2 linked regions of the Homo sapiens genome follow. The protein of the gene in region 1 interacts with the protein of each later gene in a biochemical or structural test. Each region holds a gene or a part of one and is shown in the gene's direction. Other genes may lie near its edges.

Evidence for each region.
Region 2: the proteins of WDR33 (region 1) and WWOX form a complex in vitro, tested with the Homo sapiens proteins (one study listed by BioGRID).

Annotation. Positions count from the first base shown.
Region 1 is NC_000002.12:127,717,037-127,720,856, reverse strand, and holds part of WDR33 (pre-mRNA 3' end processing protein WDR33), read left to right. Parts: intron 1-503; coding exon 504-1,592; intron 1,593-3,593; coding exon 3,594-3,702; intron 3,703-3,820. UniProt on the Homo sapiens protein: Essential for both cleavage and polyadenylation of pre-mRNA 3' ends.
Region 2 is NC_000016.10:78,105,834-78,109,653, forward strand, and holds part of WWOX (WW domain-containing oxidoreductase), read left to right. Parts: intron 1-2,589; coding exon 2,590-2,654; intron 2,655-3,820. UniProt on the Homo sapiens protein: Putative oxidoreductase. Acts as a tumor suppressor and plays a role in apoptosis. Required for normal bone development. May function synergistically with p53/TP53 to control genotoxic stress-induced cell death.

The DNA of each region.
Region 1 (3,820 bases):
CCAGGCACAGTGGCTCACGCCTGTAATCCCAGCACTTTGGGAGGCGAGGCGGGAGGATCAGCTGAACCCAGGAGTTTGAGATCAGCCTGGGCAATATAGCAAGACCCTGTCTCTACAAATAATAATTAGCTGGGTGTGGTGGCATGTGCCTGTAGTCCCAGCTACTCCGGAGGCCGAGGTGGGAGGATCACTTGAGCCCAGGAGGGTGAGGCTGTAGTGAACCACGATCGTACCACTGCATTCCAGCTTGGGGGACAGAAAAAAAAAATAAGGAAAAAAAAATCCTTACTACTGTGTCCCAGGACTTAAAAAGAATGAGAAAGAACCTAAAACTCCTTACAGTGCTTGAGTGTTGCATGGACTCTAATTACCACTGGAGCGTGAAGAGTTTGAGCAGTTTTTATGTTTGAGAGTCCCCTAACAGAATACATGATAGCAATATTGTCATCTTCAAGGGCTCTGGCCTGTTTATTCAACATGCTTTTTTCTTTCTTTCTTTCCAGCAACTTAAAATTGAAAGACTTGCACAGAAACAAGTTGAGCAAATTCAGCCTCCTCCCTCATCTGGCACCCCTCTCCTCGGACCCCAGCCTTTTCCAGGACAAGGTCCAATGTCTCAGATTCCTCAAGGTTTTCAACAGCCCCATCCATCTCAGCAGATGCCAATGAACATGGCTCAAATGGGGCCTCCAGGTCCACAGGGACAGTTTAGGCCTCCTGGACCCCAGGGACAAATGGGACCACAAGGTCCTCCACTGCATCAGGGAGGTGGGGGGCCACAAGGATTCATGGGACCACAGGGGCCCCAGGGCCCGCCCCAGGGGTTGCCACGGCCTCAGGACATGCATGGGCCCCAAGGAATGCAGAGGCATCCTGGACCTCATGGCCCTTTGGGACCTCAAGGGCCACCTGGACCACAAGGTAGTTCTGGTCCTCAAGGTCATATGGGTCCTCAGGGTCCACCTGGCCCACAGGGTCACATAGGCCCCCAAGGCCCGCCTGGCCCTCAGGGTCACTTGGGCCCACAGGGGCCTCCGGGTACTCAAGGTATGCAGGGACCACCTGGTCCCAGAGGAATGCAAGGGCCTCCTCATCCTCATGGGATCCAAGGCGGACCAGGGTCTCAAGGGATCCAAGGTCCTGTGTCTCAGGGACCTCTGATGGGATTGAATCCAAGAGGAATGCAGGGGCCTCCAGGCCCCCGGGAGAACCAGGGTCCTGCTCCCCAAGGGATGATTATGGGCCACCCGCCTCAAGAGATGAGAGGACCTCACCCTCCAGGTGGACTACTGGGACACGGCCCTCAGGAAATGAGAGGTCCTCAGGAGATCCGAGGCATGCAGGGGCCTCCACCCCAAGGATCAATGCTGGGACCTCCCCAGGAATTGCGAGGGCCTCCAGGCTCACAAAGTCAGCAGGGGCCGCCCCAGGGCTCTTTAGGACCTCCACCCCAGGGTGGCATGCAAGGACCCCCCGGACCTCAGGGACAGCAGAACCCAGCAAGAGGGCCACATCCATCTCAAGGGCCAATACCATTCCAGCAACAGAAAACGCCTCTGCTAGGTGATGGGCCCCGGGCCCCCTTCAACCAGGTATTATTCATTTCCAACTCACGGGCACATTGGGAAAATACACTCTGCACAGAAGTAATACTGCTGAGTATTGTGGAAAATGGTCACAGCTGGATATAAATACTTATCAAGTAGTGACAGTAGCTTAAGATACTAGCATCCTGGCTGAAGAATGAAATCATAAGAATGATGAGTTAGGTTATACTCCCATTAAGTACATCTCAGTATTCATTTTTACTTCTCACCATTTTTCTTTTTTTGGTAATAGAGTTTCTTCAGAAAAGGTCAACTCTCATTTGAGTACAGCTGATAATTGTCCCAGGGCTCCAGGAGAGCTGTGGCCCTGAGGAGGAAGCATGTTTTACATGGTGGTCGGCTCTGAGGCTGTCATGCCTCCTTTCTGGGCCCTTTACATTGCAGCCTGGTGTTCCATGGGCCTGCCAGCCACAGAATCACTTCCTGTCTGCCAACTCTACTTTTAAAAGATAGGATGGGATATTTAACTCATGAGTATACTATAGACTCTGTACCTCACTCTGTTTATTACAGTGAATAGAAATAAAGAGACTGTTATTCCAGAATTGAGCATTCTGGAAATGGTGACCCTTTGGATGAAACTCTGCTCAAGTTGTTTTCAGCTCACATATAAAAGTATTTGCAGGGGGGAGCATTTCTGTAGAAATTCTCCTTCTTTGAGGATTCTGTTTTTGTTAGCCAATTTTTATTGCTCATGCGCTGAGCTCGTGCTTGAGAGATGGTGTGAGGAAAGTTCAGGTTGCTTGGGGGAGTGAATTACGAAAAGAATTGCATGAGCATAAATAGATGTAATACTGCTCAGCTATGTGCATTTTATGCTTTTCTCAAGTTCTTAGTCTGGAGGCATTATTTGGGTATGAATAACTGAGTTTTGTCCCTGAAAACTCACTTTTGGTCCAGTGTGGACCAAAAGTGAGCGAGTCAGCTAATGTTGACTCCCTGAGACACTTGGAGAAAGGGGATGCTACAGATGTAGAAAGCACAGTCTGTTTTGGTTTTTCAAATACCACCACGAATCCCTAATGTAAAGATGACCATTGGGTTTCCTGAACTCAACTACTAAGCTAAAACAAATAAATTATCTACTATTCTAAAGTAGGTCTTCCAGAACCTAAAAGTGTCGTAGTCATGGAGAATCTGATGATGTCTGAGTTATTTCCAGATTTTTATTCAGCACTTCTCAGAAGTTAGGATGAATTAAGTATAGGATTGCCATTCTAAATTGCCCTAAAACTTGAAGTATTATATATTTTATTAATTTACTGCTCAGTTGTATGTGTGTATAATATTATTTATTGTAAGTTATTTTCCTAACTTTCTGGTAGTAAATTAACAGTTTTCATTTTGGAGGATTAAAAAAATAATGGACTTTAGCTACTGTGTTATAACTGAAATATTTATAAACATGTCAGAGTCACAAGGACATGCCTGAGTTTCTGGGATAATTCAATGAGATTTTTTATTGTACCATGTAGTAAAAGATTTTATACATGGGAAGCATGATTCTGAAATTTTAATTGACCTATAGAAATACTGGTAGAATGAGTCTGAAGATCTGATACTTTGTAGGGCATTTCAGATCTCAGAAGTTGCCTGATGAAAATCTGTGCTCTTATTTCTCATATGCTGAAATCTAAGTTGCTTCACTTTAACCAGACCAGTTACTTAAACCAGTTGTTTTAATTGGTTTAATTTAGTGCTGCTGTGTTAGAATTTCTGACTTTCCATTGATGTTCTTTTTTGGCATTACGAGTAAAGATCTAATTTTACATAAAAGTTGTCAACAGGTTTAAAATACAGGTGCTTTAAAAAAATTATTATAGTAAAAGAAGTATCTCCTTTCTCCTGATTTAAGGACAATGTTACTGTAATCTTACTAGGTAAATATTTACTGGGTATTTTTATCTTGTCATGTTATAATGCAATCACTATTTATGTAGCTCAAGCCTGTGATTTCATACCCTTACTTTAAAAACATATTTTCAGGAAGGACAGAGCACAGGCCCCCCACCCCTGATACCAGGCCTAGGGCAGCAGGGAGCACAAGGTCGCATTCCCCCTCTGAACCCCGGACAAGGACCTGGCCCCAACAAAGGTAAATATCTGCTCAGCTGAATAAAAGATTATATTCTACCACCTTTGTGCACATTTTACAGTGAATAATTTTGTTGGCCAGTCATTGATAGACTGGTCATTTGAACCTCTGGGCAAAA
Region 2 (3,820 bases), on another chromosome or scaffold:
CTTTTTCGCCCAGGCTGGACTGCAGTGGCGTGATTTTGGCTCACTGCAACCTCCACCTCCCAGGTTCAGGAAATTCTCATGCCTCAGCCACTCAAGTAGCTGGGATTACAGGCATGTGCCACCATGTCTGTCTAATTTTTGTATTTTTAGTAGAGATGGGGTTTTGCCATGTTGCCTAGGCTGGTCTCGATCTCCTGGGCTCTAGCGATCCTCCCGCCTCGGCCTCCCAAAGTGCTGGGATTACAGGCGTGAGCCACCGTACCCCGCCACTCCATGGATTCTTGAGGGCAGAGTTTTTTGGAGCCAGGCTTCAAGCACATTTGATGTGTGCCTATGAGATAAAGACTGCTTTTAATGGCAGGCAAGGAAAATGCAAGTCCATCTCTTAACTTTCTTGAAGAAGCTTGAGACACAGCTCTGCAAGGGGCTGGAAGGTTTCATGTTATTGCCAATGCTTGGTTTATCTGATTGCTGTTGCCATTCATTTTGAAGGAGAAGCAGGAGTTGGTATACCAATATTCCCACTGTGCCAGCAGAGAGCGGGTTATCCTTACTAGAGAGCCAGAGAGTCAGAACGGTTTTTTTTTGTTTTTTTTTTTTTTTTTTGAGATGGAGTTTCACAATTGTTGCCCAGGCTGGAGTGCACGATCTCAGCTCACCGCAGCCTCTGCCTGCCGGGTTGAAGCAATTCTCCTGCCTCAGCTTCCCGAGTAGCTGGGATTACAGGCATGTGCCACCACGCCAGGCTAATTTTGTATTTTTAGTAGAGACAGGGTTTCTCCATGTTGTTCAGGCTGGTCGCGAACTCCTGACCTCAGGTAATCCGCCTGCCTTGCCCTCCTGAAGTACTGGGATTACAGACATGAGCCACCGCGCCCGGCCACAGAGCTGCTTTTTTTTGCAAGTGATATTGGATGGTGGTTGATGTACAAAGTAGGAGTTTGTCCTTGCTACTGATACCGTAGCTGGTACAAGGTTTTAATCGTTCTCCAAGCACTGTCACAGGTGTCATGTGTCTCGCCTTTTCAGCAGCTCTGTGAGGTGGCAGTAGCCCTGAGGAGACTGGCTGGACTCAGCTAGCATGGGCTGCTCAGGTCTTCAGCGTGCTGAGTGAGGCATTCCTGCACTATGACAGAGACCCAGCTGCCAAGACTTTGTCAAACAGACCAGAAGCCAGCAGTTCATGAAAAGACCTTGCTTGCAAGTTGTAGAATTTTTTAGAAAATTCGTGCTCTCTGTATTTATTTTCTGTAAAATAATTGATAGGGAAAGAATGTTCACATCTTATCATCTAGATGTTGCTGATTAAATAATATAACTTTCTGGGTTGGCATGAGTAGGTGAACTTTTAGGAAACGCAGCCTACCCTTCGAATACCTCTTGTAGCACCTGGCTGTTTCCCTTTTGAAATAATTGTATGTTTTCCTGGATACCTTATTACCTGGTGACACGTGTTTCTAGTTATTGACCTATGTTTTTAATTATAACTTTGGGTGGTGGTCTGAAATGAAATGTTAAGTTTGACGCAAAAATAGGACTAGTTTGTGTAACTGATTTGTTCAGAATAACAGCTTACATTTCTCAGAGCTTTTTGTATGCCAAGTGCTATGCGAAACCCTGGATGTACAATATTCTTATAGTAGCCCCTGAGACCAGTGCTAGGATTATTTCCATTTTGCAGATGAGGGGATGGAGATTAAGGAGTGGGGTCACTTGACCAAAGGTGCACAGCGCACAGCTAGATGCCCTATGGGAAGGTCTTACTGCATCTCTTAACTACCTCTTGGGACCAGTTAGGAACCAGTGCTTAATGAAACACTTTGAAGTTACATCTGTGGAAAGAATAAACATTTTAGCTGGGCAAGGTGGCACGGGCTTCTAGTCCCAGCCACTCAAGAGGCTGAAATAGGAGGGTTACTTGAGTCCAGGAGTTCCAGTCCAGCCTGGGCAACATAGTGAGACCCTGATTCTTTAAAAAGAAACACAAATAAATAAACATTTTAAGAGATTATATAAATTAGATATTATGAATTTTGTCCCTACATCGTGGAATAAAACCAAAACAAATACACAGCAAAATGCCTCTAGATTTATTTATTTATTTATTTATTTTTGAGACAGAGTCTTGCTCTGTCGCCAGGCTGGAGTGCAGCGGCGTGATCTCGGCTCACTGCAACTTCTGCTTCCCTGGCTCAAGCGATTCTCCTGCCTCAGCCTCCCGAGTAGCTGGGACTACAGGCACGTGCCACTGTCCCCAGCTAATTTTGTATTTTTGGTAGAGACAGGGTTTCACCATGTTGGCCAGGATGGTCTCCATCTCCTGACCTTGTGATCTGCTCCCCTAGGGCTCCCAAAGTGCTGGGATTACAGGTGTGAGCCACCGCTCCCGACGGCCTCTAGATATTTTGAGTGATTCAGCAAACCTCCTAAAGTTGACCCCGTAGCTGGGGTCACAGTCCTCTTTCTCCTTCTTCCCCCTACTTCCTTCTTATATCTGGCTATCTGGGAGAGAAAAAATTTAATACAATTGATTACTTTTTAGAAGAGTTAATTTTTACTTATTACTGTGGATTTTTTGTTTTTTAACAGTCACACCGAGGAGAAGACTCAGTGGGAACATCCAAAAACTGGAAAAAGAAAACGAGTGGCAGGAGGTTTGTATGTTGTTGTCTAAGGATCTTGGATGGAAGCATTAAGTAGATGAGGAAATGTCACTGGCAGAGAGGTGACAGGTTATTGTGTGTTTAGGGAGGGCTCTCTGGTAGAGAACCAGACTCCCACTCTGAGGAGCTTATGGGATTTGGCAGAAGAAGATGATGAGATCATAGGGTGGAGTGAGGATGATTTCTTACTGGTCTTAAAGTACCAAAATGGCCAGATGTGGTGGCTCATGCCTGTAATCCCAGCACTTCGGGAGGCCGAGGCGGATGGATCACCTGAGGTCAGGAGTTTGAGACTAGCCTGGCCAACATGTTGAAAGCGCATCTCTTCTAAAAATACAAAAATTAGCTGGGCATGGTTGCATGCGCCTGTAATTCCAGCTACTTTGGAGGCTGAGGCACGAGAAGTGCTCAAACCCAGGAGCTGGAGGTTGCAGTGAGCCAAGATCACACCACTGCGCTCCAGCCTCGGTGACAGAGTGAGATGCTGTCTGAAAAATAGCGACAACAACAACAACAAAAACCAGAAAATAATTGAGGCCTTTGATTCACAGTTTATGATGTTTTCCTATCGTTGCAGTGTTTATAAAATTGTTCTTGGCTATACTATGGAATTAAATATATAAGTATTTGGAAATTTCGTAAAGATTACCATGACTTCTAGGTGATTCTGAGATAATGTATGATCCACGGAATAGAAGTATAAGAAAGGGACAGGCACGGTGGCTTGTGCTTGTGATCCCAGCCCTTTGGGAGGCAGAGGTGGGAGGATCACTTGTGCCTGGGAATTCGAGGTGAGCCTAGGCAACATAGTGAGACCCCATCTCAAAAAAAAATATGAGAAGGTTCCTGCCCTTAAGAGGTTTAGGATCCAGCTGAAGAATCAACATGTGCACATGAAAAAAAATGGCCGTGCCCTCTAATGTCATATGAGGTCAGCGTATGAATGACGTTGGGTGCCTGCCCTGCATATACATATGTTCTTTGAGCTCATTCAAGGGAGAATTCCCATGGATTGGCACAACCAGTATGGTTTATAGAGCGATCAGGAATAAAATAGGTTTTCTTCAAAACAAGAGGCAAAAATGTGGAGCCCAGGGTGGGATCAGGGGCCTTCTGCAGCTGTCGCAGTTGGAACATGTGACGAAAGCCAGTTGATG